Linked DNA regions of Homo sapiens: region 1 is linked to region 2. The links come from fine-mapping of genetic effects on gene expression. Tissue or cell type: subcutaneous fat. Region 2 holds a variant in brackets; the other region holds the start of a gene. All regions are shown on one strand. Distances are from middle to middle.

What was found. PIP is the estimated chance that this variant, and not a neighbour inherited with it, causes the effect.
Region 1: CYC1 starts here. The variant in region 2 is fine-mapped to the expression of CYC1 in subcutaneous fat (FUSION, PIP 0.95).

The regions. Positions count from the first base shown.
Region 1 is chr8:144,091,198-144,099,197 of GRCh38, forward strand. CYC1 (cytochrome c1) reads left to right here and starts at 3,879. Exons shown (of 7, transcript NM_001916.5): 1 at 3,879-4,031; 2 at 4,636-4,832; 3 at 4,927-5,053; 4 at 5,140-5,297; 5 at 5,387-5,547; 6 at 5,837-5,937; 7 at 6,035-6,328. The coding sequence starts at 3,903. The coding sequence ends at 6,139. SHARPIN (SHANK associated RH domain interactor) reads right to left here. Exons shown (of 9, transcript NM_030974.4): 7 at 7,884-8,000; 8 at 7,669-7,797; 9 at 7,440-7,591. The coding sequence ends at 7,681. RefSeq lists enhancers at 2,289-2,583, 5,048-5,097 and silencers at 3,718-4,007, 3,953-4,148.
Region 2 is chr8:143,910,107-143,918,335 of GRCh38, forward strand. It overlaps PLEC (plectin), which reads right to left. Exons shown (of 32, transcript NM_201384.3): 32 at 5,047-8,229. The coding sequence ends at 6,071. Among named protein-coding and RNA genes, the nearest start is that of PLEC, 25 kb to the right of the region's middle. RefSeq lists a silencer at 6,006-6,201. The variant A/T (reference allele first, on the strand shown) is at 3,660.

The DNA.
Region 1 (8,000 bases), 180 kb after region 2:
TTTTTTTTTTCTGAGAAGGAGTTTTGCTCTTGTTGTCCAGGCTGGAGTGCAATGGTCCAATCTTGGCTTACTGCAACCTCCACCTCCCGGGTTCAAGCGAGTCTCCTCCCTCAGCCTCCGGAGTAGCTGGGATTACAGGTGCATGCCACCAGGCCCGGCTAATTTTTTTTGTATTTTTAGTAGAGACACGGTTTTGCCATATTGGCCAGTCTGGTCTCGAACTCCTGACCTCAGGTGATCTGCCTGGCTCAGGCTCCCGAAGTGCTAAGATTACAGGAGTGAGCCACCGCGCCCGGCCAAGAATTATTTTTATGTGATGAGTCACTTCTCTCTTGCTGCTTTCAAGATTCTTTGTCTTTCAACAATTTGTTATGTGTCTCCTTTAGTTTATTCTACTTAGTGTTTGTTTAACAAAAAAACTAGATGTGCAGATTCATGTTTTTCATGAAACATGGCATGTTTTTGGCCTTTTTTTTTTTTTTTTTGAGACAGAGTTTCACTCTTGTTGCCCAGGCTGGAGTGCAATGGTGCAATCTTGGCTCGCTGCAACCTCCACCTCCAGGTTCAAGCAATTCTCCTGCCTCAGCCTCCCAAGTATCTGGGATTACAGGTATGCACCACCATGCCTGGCTAATTTTGTATTTTTAGTAGAGACAGGGTTTCTCCATGTTGGTCAGGCTGGTTTCGAACTCTCGACCTCAGGTGATCTGCCCACTTCGGCCTCCCAAAGTGCTGGGATTACAGGCATGCGCCATGACACCTGGCTAATTTTGTATTTTTAGTAGAGTCGAGGTTTCTTCATGTTGGTCAGACTGGTTTTGAACTCTCAACCTCAGGTGATCTGCCTGCCTCGGCCTCCCAAAGTGCTGGGATTACAGGTGTGAGCTACTATGCCCAGCCTTGGCCATTTTTTTTTTTTAAGTATTCTTACTCCTTTCTCTGTCTAGTCTACTCCTGGGACTGAAATTATGCATATGTTGGTATGCTTAATAGTGTCCCACAGGTCTCTGAGGCCCAGTTCATATTTCTTTCTTTTTTTAAATTTCTCTTCCTCAGACTTCCCTTTGTGTAGAGCCTCAAGGTCAGCCAGAGGTGAGAGTTTAGGGCTTTTTCAGGTCTCTCCTGAGTATATATCCATAGTCCTCCGTGTGTATATGACCTGTATTCCCAAAAATGTTTTGGGCTTTTCAAAGCGCCTGTGGACATCTCATTCCCTTGCTCTTCCTTTTTAGCTTTTTGTTTAGTCTATTGTTTGTGGCAACTGTTATCCATCACCTCAGGCAGCTGGCACTGGGCAAGCCCTGAGCCAATGTGGTAGGAGTCTTCTAGGCAGCCATCAGACACGTTCAATAACGGAGGTTCTGTGCGAATGAGGGCATTTTGCTCCCACAGTAACTAGGAATGTAGGTTCTTATTTCCAAGATTACCACTGAGCTGGAGGGCAGGGTTGAACCAGGGAAAGCTACAACCCACAAAGGCCACTGTTCTTACTGATAGTCACCTGTTTAATTGAATAACACCCCCTGGGATGACGACAGCCTTTGATTAATTTCCATAGCTTTGTAAAAGTTGATTCTGATCATTTTTGCTATGTTTTTCTTGCTCTTATTGGGTGAGGGGTGGGCACATTTTTTAGGGGTCTTTCTCCATTTTCACTGACAACTAATTTTGGATTTTTATTTTATTTTTTATTTTATTTTTTCTTGAGATAGAGTTTCGTTCTTGTTGCCAGGCTGGAGTGCAGTGGCGTGATCTCTGCTCACTGCAAACTCCGCCTCCTGGGTTCAAGCGCTTCTCCTGCCTCAGCCTCTGGAGTAGCTGGGATTACAAGCATGCGCCACCACACCTGGCTAATTTTGTATTTTTAGTAGAGATGGTGTGTAGAAAGTAAAAAGTTTCCTCTTCAAAGTTTCCCTTCTTGTTAAAGAATAAATCGTAAGTGTTAGAAATAATAGTTTCTTTTACAGACTAACTTCCTTCAAGCCTCCTTGTTTTGTGCTAATAATTCTTTTCTTTTCTTTTTTTATTATACTTTAAGTTCTAGGGTACATGTGCATAATGTGCAGGTTTGTTACAGATGTATACATGTGCCATGGTGTGCTGCACCCATTAACTCGTCATTTACATTAGGTATATCTCCTAATGCTATCCCTCCCCTCTCCCCCACCCCACAACAGGCCCCGGTGTGTGATGTTCCCCTTCCCGTGTCCAAGTGTTCTCATTGTTCAATTCCCACCTATGAGTGAGAACATGTGGTGTTTGGTTTTGCTAATAATTCTTTAAGCTCTATCTTATGTAGCTGTTAAACATGCTCACAGGCAGGTAGTACATTCTATGTCCTTGTACCTTAACCAAAATATTTGTGCTGGACGTGCTCACAGGCACGTTCCAGCTCACAGCCTGTGCCCCTTCCCTATTTGGCATAAGCAACTTCCTCTTTTCCTCTGTTCTCCCTTGCCTTTATCTATTTAGAAAAGTTTTAAATTATTAGCCAGTCGACTTTTAGTTTAGATTGTGCCATCTGGCTCTAGCCAATGGAGACAGGACACAGTAGCAGGGACAAGCTGTGTAAGGGATAAAAATAGCTTCTCTCCTTTATTCAGGTGTGCTCTCACCATTTTTCCATCTGTGAGGAGCACCCTCTCTGCAGAAAGTAAAATTGACTTGCTGAGAGAACTTTTTGTCGGAATGCTGATCTTTCCTTATGGTACCAGGGAACAAGCGTTCTGTTTCTAAATAAACATTTTACATATAACACAGGGTTTCTCCATGTTGGTCAGGCTGGTCTCAAACTCACGACCTCAAGTGATCTGGGGCCTCCCAAAGTGCTGGGATTACAGGCGTGAGCCACCGCACCCAGCCTAGTTTTTAAATTTTATTTGCTTTTTTTTTTTTCTTGAGAGGGAGTCTTCCGTCTGTCATCCAGGCTGGAGTGCAGTGGCACGATCTCTACTCACTGCAACCTCCGCCTCCCGGGTTCAAGCGATTCTCCTGCCTCAGCCTCCCAGAGTAGCTGGGACTACAGGCGCGCGCCACCACGCCTGGCTAATTTTTGTATTTTCAGTAGAGACAAGGTTTCACCATGCTGACCAGGATGGTCTCCATCTTTTGACCTCGTGATCTGCCCGCCCCACCCTCCCAAAGTGCTGGGATTACAGCGTGAGCCACCGCGCCCGGCCTTTGCTTACTTTTTAAATATTTTACAATAAAAATATTCTCACATAACAAGATCATATTTACTTACTTTTTTGAGACGAGGTCTCGCTCGATATCGCCCAGGCTGGAGTGCAGTGGCGATCTCGGCTCACCGCAGTCTCCACCTCCGGGGCTCAAGCGATCCTCCCGCCTCAGCTTCCCAAAGCGCTAGGACCCAAGGCGCGCATCACGCGTCGGGCCATGAGTCAAGGGAATGAAGGAGAACAGGGTGCTCAGCCTGGGGGCCCAGCCTCCCGCTGTCACGCGCTGCCTGCGGCCGAGACCCCTGCCCGCGCCCTCTGCCGGGCTGCCCTCCAAGCCGCCCTTTCTCTGGAGGTCCTCAGCCTGCAGGGGCACCCTCCACCCGGCCATCGCGCAGCCTGGGAAGGTGGAGAAAAGGAGCGTCGGGGTCTCGGAGGCGGCGTGGGAAACGCCGGGCGGAGCGTGGCGCTGTCACGGCAACAGAGAGACGCGACGGGGCCCCGCCCCACCGCCAGTTTCCACGACAACCCGAAGAGCGTGGGGAGGCAGGCGGTGCCCCGGCCCCTGACTGACGCGACCGGGACCAGCGCGCTTCGTCCCCGCCCACCCGACAGGCCCCGCCCCCGAGCCCGGCCCCGCCCCGCGCTCCCCGGCTTTCGCGAGGTTTTGACTCTCGTGGCGCCCCAGGGGCCGACGGGAGTGGCGGCCGCGCGGAGGAGGCCAAGATGGCGGCAGCTGCGGCTTCGCTTCGCGGGGTAGTGTTGGGCCCGCGGGGCGCGGGGCTCCCGGGCGCGCGTGCCCGGGGTCTGCTGTGCAGCGCGCGTCCCGGGCAGCTCCCGCTACGGACACCTCAGGTGAGCGCTGGGCCGGGCCCCGGCCTCCGCGCGGCCCCGCATCTCCGTGAAGGTCACGGCGGGGAGGCTGCGGGCGCGGGCCTGGGCAGCGCGGAAGCGGTACCGGCCACCCAGCGTCCCCGGTCCCAGCTGCCTGCCGACCTTGAGCGTGTGGGATCAGGGCTGGGCGCCCACCTCTCCGAACGGCAGAGAGCCCGTCCCCAGCGTGGGGGTTGGCGGGACGGGCTAGCTGCCGTGGCGGGGCTGGGGCTTTCCCGAATGGCGCGCCCAGGACGGCTCTTGCGGCTGGCTGTCCAAACTGGGCCCGCGTCCTGAAGTGACCCCAGCCTGATCTCGGCCAGCTGCTTGTGACCTTGGCCTGTCCCAGCACCCTTGGTCACTTCGGTCTGATCCCCGGCTCAGGATCCAGGAACACCCTCTCCTGAGAGCGAATCACGGTCTAGGGGTCAGCGGCGGAGAGGGATGGGGTGGGTAGTGGGACAGGGTGTGCGTCTGGTGCCCTGCAGGAGGAGGCCATTGCTGGGTGGAGAGGTGGGCGCTGAGAGTCAGATCCCCAGGTAGGGCTGGGTGGTGTCCTGGCAGGCGCTGAGCGGAGATCTTGCAGGCAGTGGCCTTGTCGTCGAAGTCTGGCCTTTCCCGAGGCCGGAAAGTGATGCTGTCAGCGCTGGGCATGCTGGCGGCAGGGGGTGCGGGGCTGGCCATGGCTCTGCATTCGGCTGTGAGTGCCAGTGACCTGGAGCTGCACCCCCCCAGCTATCCGTGGTCTCACCGTGGCCTCCTCTCTTCCTTGGACCACACCAGGTGTGCAGCTGGCTGGCTGGCTGGCAGCGGGAGGTTCTGGGTGGAGCTGGTAAGGTGGAATCTTCAGCTTTCCTAACCCTTTCCCTCCCTCCAGCATCCGGAGGGGTTTCCAGGTATATAAGCAGGTGTGCGCCTCCTGCCACAGCATGGACTTCGTGGCCTACCGCCACCTGGTGGGCGTGTGCTACACGGAGGATGAAGCTAAGGAGCTGGCTGCGGAGGTGTGGGGTCTGGGGATGCCTGGGACCCAGGGCTCAGGGCTCCCACTGTTGAGATGGCAGGGTTGTGATGAGGCTCTCGGTGGCAGGTGGAGGTTCAAGACGGCCCCAATGAAGATGGGGAGATGTTCATGCGGCCAGGGAAGCTGTTCGACTATTTCCCAAAACCATACCCCAACAGTGAGGCTGCTCGAGCTGCCAACAACGGAGCATTGCCCCCTGACCTCAGCTACATCGTGCGAGCTAGGTACACGGGCTGCCCATGGGGTGGTGCTGGAGAGATGGGGGAAGGGCTGACTTGTGCTTGGAACTAAGGAGCCATGGATCTGGTCCTAGGCATGGTGGTGAGGACTACGTCTTCTCCCTGCTCACGGGCTACTGCGAGCCACCCACCGGGGTGTCACTGCGGGAAGGTCTCTACTTCAACCCCTACTTTCCTGGCCAGGCCATTGCCATGGCCCCTCCCATCTACACAGATGTCTTAGAGTTTGACGATGGTAAGAGGCCTCCAGTCTGGCAGTGGGCATGTGGAATACTTCTCCACTACCCCCAGGGATGCTTTCCCTGTGTTCCTGGGTCCAGGAGGTCCTGCCCACTTCTTGTCTGGGGCGTCTTCTGTGCATGTCTCAGGAGGCTTTTGGGCTCCTTCAGTTTTGCGTATGTCCGGTGGAGGGTACTGCCCCTTTGATGCCTTGGGTAGGGGCAGTGTCTGCTTCACAGAGGGGGGGCATGATCCCAGGTTGGACATGAGCCTGAGAATAGCCCTCACTGCTTGTCGTTGGCCAGGCACCCCAGCTACCATGTCCCAGATAGCCAAGGATGTGTGCACCTTCCTGCGCTGGGCATCTGAGCCAGAGCACGACCATCGAAAACGCATGGGGCTCAAGGTAAAAGGGTTGGGAGGCCATGGTGGGTATCAGAGAAGGGCTGGGAGCTGGGCAGGGCTCCTCCCCACTCCCTTCTCTGAGCCTTCCTTGTCTGCAGATGTTGATGATGATGGCTCTGCTGGTGCCCCTGGTCTACACCATAAAGCGGCACAAGTGGTCAGTCCTGAAGAGTCGGAAGCTGGCATATCGGCCGCCCAAGTGACCCTGTCCAGTGTCTGCTTGCCATCCTGCCAGAACAGGCCCTCAAGCCCAAGAGCCATCCCAGGCCTGTTCAGGCCTCAGCTAAGCCTCTCTTCATCTGGAAGAAGAGGCAAGGGGGCAGGAGACCAGGCTCTAGCTCTGGGCCCTCCTTCAGCCCCCATCATGGGAATAAATTAATTTTCTCAATGTACATATTTGAGTTATTATATGGAAAGAGTGCACGTTTGCAAGGAACTCTGATACCAAGACCCTTGCCTTCACAAGGCTCCCAGGATGTCCCATGCAGTGTGGCCAGCAATGCCCTGCACTGACTGGTAGCTGGGAGTCCAGACAGTGGGTGTGGGACAGAAAGCGGAGAACTGCATGTTAGAGGAAGTCAGCATTTGGTGGGGTGGGGTGTGTCTGAGCACAGAGCTGAAAAGGGCCTAGCCAGGCAGGATGTGGCCCAGGGACCTGTTGGAATGAACAGCCAAGTGTTAAGGTGTTGAACCACTTGGCCCCCATTCTGATGGCAGCAGGGAACCTTGGCTGCATTTTAACAGGGGAAAGGCCTGGTCTAGGGCAGGGGCTATTTATTGCTGGGCTGGGCTGAGGAAGGGGATGGCTCCCAGCCAGGTGAAGGAGTCAAGTAGACAGACAGGATGTGTGTCATGGAGTGGCCCCTCCTAGCAGTCCACAGGGTAGCTAGGTGGTGGGTCCTGGCCAGAAGCTGGCAGTAGCTGGGTTCCCACAGGAGCATGCTGCTGAGGGAGGGAGACAGTGGATGCTATCTAGGAGGGTCACAGAGACATGACCCAGCACCGGCCCAGTGACCTGGTGCAGGACTCAGCTCCTGAGCTTCCCTCGTCCCTAGGAAGGGAAGGAAAACACCCATTTTCATTGCTGGTGTCCTAGCTGCAAGAGCTGAGGGGAGTGGTGGCCATAGTCCAAGGAAGGCAAGAGCTGAATGGGAGAAAGGTGGTACCAATAGGCCTGCAGGCAAGAGAGGTGCAGGCCTGGGGGACCAGGGTGGACAGTAGGAGACAAGGTCAGTGGTGGGGGCTGCAGCTCAGTATGTGGCACACCCCAGCAGCCTCAGCCCAGTGGTGAGCAGCTGGGTGGGGGGCTCTGTAGGCCTCTGGGGTCTGGGAAGAGATCCCCATGCCATGCTTTCCTGACCACTGAGGCTCAGGGTCCGGGCCCATTCTTCAGTAACACCGGGGTCTGGCTGGGGAGCCCCGCCTGCTGATGAGGGCCTGTCTCCCTGTATCGCTGGCTAGGATGGGGCAGGTCTGCAGAGACACCATGAAAGGGATGCTTGCTGGCTCTTAAGGGTCTTTAATGGTTTCATTTTGTGGCCCTTCCCCCCAACCCTGGTGACTGTCCCAGCAAGCAGTCAGTAGAGGTCCCCGGAGTTCAGTGGGGGCCTGGAGATGTCGGACTTGTGAGGGAAGGGCCACTCTCCCCTTGTAACCTGTGGGGGAGGAGCTGGGTCATTCCTGTGGATTCTGCCCTGCCCCCCACCTCCCCTGCCTGTGCCACCTCTGGTACCTCTGGTGGCTGCTAGGTGGAAGCTGCAGCAAGGGGGTCCCAAGTGCAGGGCCTCTGGGTGCTACACATCTCACAGCCAGGGCGGTCTGGGGCATTGATGAAGGTGCAGGAAGGACAGGACCAGCTGGGCTGGGGGAAGAGAGACAGTTGTTGCTTCCCTGCTCTTTCCAATGCCCATGGCTGTCCTGGCCCTCCCTGCCCAGTCCCGTGCCCACCTGGAGTGGACTGGGCAGGCTGGAGGCAGCTGGCTGGGGGCCTGGGGGTAGCCCCAATGATGGGGGAAACAAGCGTCCAAGTTCCCCGTCCATCTTCTGGGGGTGCTGAGGGCTAGG
Region 2 (8,229 bases):
TTCCCTTCTGTGGCTGGATCGTCGGAGAACCCGCTTTCTCGCTGGGTGCAGCCCTTTGAGGATCCGGATGCCACAGAGGCCTCTGGCTGTACGGCCCGCATCCCGGCCTCCTGTTCCTGAGGACCTTTAAAACCCGAGGCTTCAGCCTTCCAGGATCAGCAAATTCCTCGGGAAGCGTCAGCTCAGCCGCTGCACTGAGGACCCTCCTTTCTCTTTCACCCCTGGTGGTTTCCTTGTCTTTTTGGTAACGTCAGAATGCACCCGAGAAGCTATTTAAGTTTTACCCGGATTTACGTGGGAGGAGTTTTCAAGGGTCTCTCGGTCCGTCTGCGCTGCTACTGAGGAGCTGCCACCGTGAAGGCAGCTGCCGTGGCCGATCCTCCAAGATCCCCTTGGGTGTCCTTGTTCCCCTCCCCAGCTGCTGCAGACGCTCACCTGTGTCCTCCTCCAGAACACTGCCCTTGGCTGACAAGAGCTGCTCATTCAGAGATGCCTGAGGACCACGTGCCACCCCACAGGCAGCTCAGACCCACGTGTGGGCAGGAGTCAGAGCCTCTGAGCTGTGCCCTTGCCTCTCAGATGTCCGTGGGGCAGGGCTACGGCTCCAGCCCCCTTTGCCAGCTCCTTGCCCTCCCCACTTGTTGCACCCCTTTTCTGAGAATTCTCCAGAAACCATGTGTAACTGAGGCACCGCCCTGGGGAGCCTGCCTGGGATGGGGGGGCGCAGACGTGGTCCTGGCGCACAGATGCCACAGTTGGTCAGAACACCACCGACTGCCTGGCGATGCTGTCAGCCTGGCACCAATGGCAGTGCAGCCGCTGGAGCTCCCACCTGTTGAGACGTGCTGGCAGCGGGAGGGAAGGTGGGGGCAGCGGCCAGAAGACCCTGACCATGGGGGCCCATGAAGCTGGCTCATGGAGCGCCACAGTCTGACAGGAGACGCAGATGGGCAGCCTGCAAGGAGCTGCTCACTACACTGGTTCTCACACTCAGGCACATGGCAGCCCCTGGAGGGCTCCTTAAAGCACAGCTGGCTGAGCCCCAGGCCCAGGATTTCTGACTCAGTTGGTCTGTGCCGCGGCCAAGGCTCTGCCCCTTCCAAGCTCCCAGGTGGTCCCGGGGCACACTCGGAGGACACTGGCTCAGCACGCGGCACCCACAAATTTTAAAACGAGTGAGTGAGTCCAGGCCCACTGCTCTGATGGAAAACACAACCACTTGCTTTGTTTCCTTATGTCAGCCAGTTCTCAGAGCCAGAGCCCACAAATGGAAAGAGCGGCCAGGTCCCCTTGTGAAAGGCCTCACGCCTCCAAGTGTGGACAGCAGTGACCCCCCAGTCCCTCCAGGGACCCAAAGATGCTTATCTGGACAACTGTGCCCTGGGGAGAGGAAGACGCCCAGATCAGGGTCTGAGTGGACGCTGACACCTGGGGCGCAAAGCACCCTCAGAGGCTCCCATCTGGGTAGGGAATATGGGGTCAGGAAGGACCTGGAGTCCTGGCCCAGGCCTCAGCCCATCATTTCCCAGCCCAGGAACGTGCAATTGGAACTGGCATGCTCAACAGCAAATCCTCACATGGGCTTTTTGGCCCATGGAGTAAAAATCACTGTAGTAGGAAAGACCAAATGGAAACCTTAGAAACTACCCCCAGCTCCAGCCAAGGAAATAAAACAATACAACCTCCTGGTCAAAACGGCGGCGTCAGCAACACCGCAGATGCCTAAAGGGTGCATGGGTGATGGCCACCATCTTCCCACTTAATTTGCTGGTCAGGTCCCTACAAGAGCTGGGTAGACTGTGGTGGACGGCGGCTGAGCCACAGCGTCTCCCCACAGTGCCAACTCCAGCTGCTGTGCTGTCTGTGGTCTTTCCTGGAGCAGACTCACAGCCTCAGACGGTGTCCTGTGGCTCCTGGCTGGGCAGAGGGCTCTCCACTGCACCGGGAGGAGGTCAGGGGCAGTTCCCATTCACACGAGGTGGACAGCAGCGCACAGACATGCAGACACACAGACAACTGACCAAAGCGCAAACACGCAAGTCCGCTCACTGACAGCATCGCACCCACCAGGCCTGGCAAGCGGGAAGTGGCAGGCGTTCTGAGCGTCCTGCTAGGACACAGGCACTCCAGGGCAGGAGAGAGGCTGAGCCAAGATTCAGGGACTGGTCACGTCATGAAGGTTTTAGGAGTCCAGAGATCTGGGCATGTTAGGACGTCCTGTCCAAGGTCAAGAACGAGTTTTGAGCCTTGCATTTCCTAACACCAGGAAAGAAGCTGGCAGATGGCAGGCCTCTGGGTTCTGGACACAGCACGATGATGCCAGACACGGCACGATACCAGACACGGCAGGATGATGCCAGACCCAGCACGATGCCAGGCACGGCACGATACCAGACCCAGCACGATACCAGGCCCGGCACGATACCAGACACGGCAGGATGATGCCAGCCCCAGCACGATACCAGACCCGGCACGATACCACACACAGATCTTTTTATCAGTTGGCACAGAGGCTTCTCGTTTTGAGTGGGGCCCAGGAAAAGGAAGGGTAGCACAGCTGGTGAGGCTGTGGAACAAAGTCCTGCCACTCAGGCCCTGTGAGCTAACAGAGCTCTTGTACCAGGAGCACCTGCCGCAGGTGGGGAAGGATGCGTCAAGGGGTCTCCGGCAAGGCCCAAAAGAGCTGCAGCACCAGCCCTAAGTTTTGAAGCAAGGAGGTCCCGACTGCAACAGAGAACTGCGGACTGTTCAGAGAAGTTCCTGGGGATGGTGTGGCCACAGCTCCCACCAGGAGCCAGTGCCACAAGACCCACCCAGGCTAAGGTCAGCGGCACAGTGAGGATCCAGGGTAAGGGGCGGTGCACTGCCGGGCACCAGCCATGAGAGCCAGAGGGCTGCACGGGCAGGTGGCGCAGCTTCCAGCTTGCCCGCCAGTCAGGCCACAGCCTCAGAGGGTCCCTGTGACTGGGTGGGGGCCAAGCCCGGCCTGCTTCATGGCGGTTGGGTTCATGGTAGTCGGACCACTCCACTTGGGCTGGCCCTGGAGTCAGGGGTCGGGGCGATCCCTGGCCTCTCATGAGGAGAGGAGAGCAGCTCATGGTAAGGACACACGTGGACAGGGCTGGGGAAGGGCTCGGCTGGCCGGTCAGGGCCTGAGAAGGGCAACGCTGGAAGACGGACTGGGGAATGGAACTGCCGGGTGGACACCAGCGTGGGGACTTGTGGGTGTTCACCAGGGGCACCGGCTGCCGAGCGGGCACCCAGCCACCCACAAGCCAATGACGCGGCCAGTGACGCAGCGTCCGGTGCTCCCACACGGCTCCCGCCTGGAGCGATGGAGGACCAGACGAAGCCAGGCGCCCCATGACAAGCCCAGCTCCTGTCGGCAGCAGCACATCCCGTCCTCTGGCCATAAAGACCACCAGGGGCCCTGGACGCAAAACCAGCCAGAGACCAACCGGTCACTTGGAGGTAAACTCAGCCCTGGAGGCCCCTTCCCCTTGGAAAGACAACAGCTGGTATTCCAGGCACGGACCCACCTTTCCAGCCCACGATGCCTCCGTGTCTGCCCTGGGAGACGGGCTCCTGTGTAACGGCCCCCAGGGCCTCTGACTGCTTCCGGCAAGGGGGTGCAGAGGGAGCGGGAACACGGGCGCCGC[A/T]GAGCCTAGAGCGTCGGCGAGCTTCTCGGAAAGAGTTGGTGCCACCGTCCTGACACCAACCCTCTGGGACTGTGGTGGTCCCGTCCTCCAGGATGTGGTCTTCGGCCTAAATCAGTGGCCCCACAGAGGACCGCATGGGTCTGGGGACCAAGGGGTAGAGGCAGGAGTGGCCGCCCACTCACCAGCTCCCAGTGACCCACTGACAACCTGTGCTTCCTTTCCCTGCAACTCTTAAGCTGTGAGGGCTCAGAGGTCCTAAAACCCAGCCACCTGGGACAGAGTAAGGCACTGCCCCGCTCGATGGCTGTGGGTCACCCGGCCGGGGCCACTCCTGTTCCAGCGGACCAGCAGGCAGAGCACCCTCTACCGGGCCGGGGCAGGGAGGGTAAAGCCCAGCAAGAGCGAGAAGACTAGGACTTGGACCCCAGGGTGAACGCCTGGGTCCCACCAGCAGGAGAGGCGAAGGCCAGGCACAGTGGCTCACGCCTGTAATCCCAGAACTTTGGGAGGCCAAGGCAGGGAGGATCACTTGAGGCCAGGAGTTCGAGACCGGCCTGGCCAACACGGTGAAACCCCATCTCTACTAAAAATATGAAAATTAGCTGGGTGCACACCTGTAGTCCCAGCTACTCGGGAGGCTGAGGCAGTAGAATCATTTGAACATGGGAGGTGGAGACTGCAGTGAGCCGAGATCATGACACTGCACTCCAGCCTGGGTGACAAAGCAAGACTCTGCCTGAAAAAAAAAAAAAAAAAAAAAAGAGTATCGGCTGAGCCTGGACCAGTGGCTACTGCAGGCTGGGGTGGCCCCGCTTCCCTCCTCCCCTAAGTCTTCCCAGAAACTGCCACCAGTCGGAAGCCTGGAGAAGCCCATCCAGATGGAATCCCCGGAGTGTGATGGGCATGGGGCCGAGACATGGCAGACTGTGGTGGAGGCCCTCATACTAGGCCCACTGCCTGTGGCCCCTTCTCTGGAGGGCTGCCCGGCCAGCAGCAACCAACTGACCCGGGGCCATGTGGCACCCTCCCCGGAGGCCAAGGGGCCACAGCCAGTGACTGATATGGGAGCATACCACACCCCGCCTCAGATAAGGAAACGTGAGCCCCTTATAGTGCGAAGGGTGGGGCTGGGAGACTGGTCAGCACCTGACCAGCAGCAGGTCCCAGGGGGCCCGGCCTCAGTGTGGCCACCACCCTGCCCCACACTGAATCCCTCTGCCCAGGGTCTCTCAGCTGCCCTCCTGCGAGCACCTGGTCTCTGCTGCACACAGACGTACGTCCCTGACTGGCCATAGTGGCTGAGCTCAGAGCCTGGAGCCTGGGGCTGCAATGTCCACCCTGTCCCTGACACACACCTGACCCCAAGACACAAGGCCGGAGGCACGGGAAGGTTGGAATTGCTTTTATTGGGGGCGGATACCGCAAGGCCCCGCCCACGGTCAGGTTAGTGTTCTGCCCTTGCAGAGGCGCCAGCAGCCTGACACCTCCACCTGCCACCCGCCCGGGGTTAGTGGAACATGCAAAGCTCAGAGGGTGGAGGCAGGGGTGGTCGCTGCTGAGACCAGGGCTGGGTGCAACAGGAGGGTCAGCACAGAGCCTGGCTGGTGTCCCTGGGCCCAAAGGGGGCTGGGGCTCCATGGGAGAGAGACGGGCAGGCGGCACCCCAGTGTGGGGCTCCACAAGCTGGAGGGGCCCCTGGACCCACCAGGAGGACAGGTCTGCAGTTCCCAGCCATGCCGGCTGGAACGTCCGCCTCCCCACTGGGTCTGGGTCCTCGGGGCCTGGGGTTAGAGGCCGACATGGAAGGCACTTACTAGGGGAACAGAGGCTGGAGGCTGACGCCGGAGGCCAGGGGTCTCAGGAGTGAGTGTGGGGGGTGAGCTGGAAAGCACAGATCAGACAGCACTGTGGGGGCTGGGCCCGAGGGCCTCGTCTTCCCATGGGGAAGGGGCTTCTCTGGGTAGACTGGGAGAGAGGCTGACTGGGGCCCCCCGTCCCCAGCAAGGCCCACCGTGCAGGCCAGTGCTAGAAACACCAGGGCCCTCTACAGACAGGGTTGGGCCCAGCTGCCCTGTGCAGCTAGGACTGGCAGGCGGGCTACCCTGGGAAGACAGGAGGGTGGGCTGGGGCCCAGCTTGGGACCCTCCAAGGCACCTGGCTGTGTGAGTGGCAGGTAGAAGGGAGTGAGGAGACCCGAGGGGGTGAGGCGGCCAGCAGGGCTGGGCCAGCCCTGTCCCCCAAGATACAGGCTGTCTGGACAGCAGATATATATTAATATATTAGTCTGGTCTTTTTGGTTAAACTTTAGGCACCACTTGGGAGGAAGACACCTTTAAGCGTTGAAAACGGCCCCCGCGCCTCGGTGGGAGCCGGGCTGGGCCGCATGCAGAGCGGGGTGGGCGCAGGCAGCCTCAGGCCACGGCAGACTCAGGGCCCCCCAGGGAGGCCGAGGACCCCGAGGCGTAGCGGCGGCCGTAGCCCGAGGAGGAGTAGGAGGATGAAGAGAAGGTCATGGAGAAGCCGGAGCCGGTGGCGTCAAAGCTGCCGCGGCGGGAGCCGGCCCGGGAGCCGGTGCGCGAGCCGGTGCGGGAGCCAGCGGTAGAGCCGGAGCCGCTGACGCTGTAGGGGCTGTAGTAGCCCTTGGTGGACTGCGCGGCAGCCTCCAGCAGCCGCAGCCCCGTGCCCTCCTCCACCATGCTGCGGTCCAGCGCGTCCTTATAGGAGATCTTGAGCTTGGTCTTAGGGCAGGTGAGGTACTTGGAGTAGGCGCCCACGTCACGCAGCTTCTGTGCGGTGCGGGCGTCCACCGTGCCGCGCTGCAGGGCCTCGTCCAGGGGCACGCGGCCCGGCGTGTCGGGCTCGATCAAGCCGCCGGTCAGGTACTGCACCTCCAGGAAGCGCTGGCCGGCCTCGTAGTAGAGCCAGCCCTTCTTCAGGGCCTGGGCGGCCGACATCTTGGTCTTGGTGCGTGGGTCCTCGAAGCCGCAGAAGGCCTTCTGGGCCAGGTTGATGCGGTCCACCATGATCTTGTCCACCAGGCCCTTGTTGACGGCGTCGGTGACAGGGAAGCGCTCACCGGTGCTGGGGTCGATGATGCCCCCGGTGCAGGCCTGCGCCTCCAGCAGCCGCTGCCCCGTGATGTTATCCACCAGGTTCCGGTGCATGGCCTCGGTGATGGACACCTTCTCCAGCGTCTCCGTGTCCAGGATGCCAGCCACGGGGCCCGTCTCCTCAGTGGGGTCTGACCAGGAGGCCAGCTGGGTCCTGGAGACGGCGGGGCTGATGGGGTAGGAGGAGGAGGATCCCACCGAGGAGGAACGGGAGCGGAAACCACCGGCGTTGCCCGAGAGCATGTCGGCGAACTCGGTGATGGAGAGCGTGCCGGCGCGGTACTGGTCCAGTGCCGAGCGGTCGATGAGGTTCTTGGCGATGGCATCATCGATGTCGTACTGGCGCCCGGAGCGGCGGTCGATGATCATGGACTTGACCACGCCGTCCGAGGAGGAGATGGTGATCTCCTCCCACTCGCACTCCTGCTCGGACAGCTCCAGGTACGTCTGGTGGTCAATCAGGCCCTTGCGGTAGGCCTCGTACACTGACATCTCCTTGCCCGTCTCGGGGTCCACGATGACCACTCGGCGCTTGCGCACGGAGGACTTGGAGGACGTCTTCCGCTCCCGCTTCTTCTCCTTCAGCGGCAAGAGACACAGGCCCGTCTGGGGGTCAGTGATACAACGCTCCATCAGCTGCAGGTAGGTGAGGTTCTCCTCCGTGTTAGGGTCAAAGAAGCCCTTGGTGTCGTCCGAGGGGTCGGTCAGGATCTCGTTCATCTCCTCATCGAAGAGGCCGCGCTTGTAGGCCACCTCCACGGGCAGCCGGTGGCTCTCCTCAGGGTCGATGATGCCGCCCGTGGCGATCTGGGCCTCCAGCAGGCGGATGCCATGGTCCTTCAGGATCAGGCCCTTCTTCATGGCCTGGAAGAGGGAGATGAGCTTCCCAGAGTAGGGGTCCTTGTACCCAGTGACGGCGCGCTCGGCCGACAGCAGCTTGTCCTTGAACTCGGGGCCCACAATGCCCATACGCACAGCCTCCTCCACCGTCAGCTTCAGTCCCTTGATGGGGTCGATGACGTAACCGGTGGCCGCCTGCGCCTCCAGGAGCTCAAAGGCTGTGCCGGGGCGGATGATGCCCTTCTTCATGGCCTGGTACACCGAGAGCCGTTCCTTGGTGGCGTCCACGAAGACACCAGCGATGCAGCTGGTGCCTTCCAGGAACTTCTGCAAGTTCTTGGTGACCTCCTCGATGGAGGTCAGGCCCTCCCGCAGCTGCAGCGCCGTGGCCTCGTCCATGACCTGCGAGCGCACCAGCTCCTCCATGGTGATCTGCTTCCGCAGGCCACGGAAGGTCAGCTTGCGGGCGTCCGACAGTGGCAGGAGCAGCTGGCCGGTGCCGTCGTCACGACGGCACCGCCTGAGCAGCTGCGTGTAGCTGAGGCGCTCGTCGGTGGACGGGTCCACGTAGCTGCGCACCTCGCTGGGCTCTGACAGCTGGTCGTGCGTGTCCTTGTTGA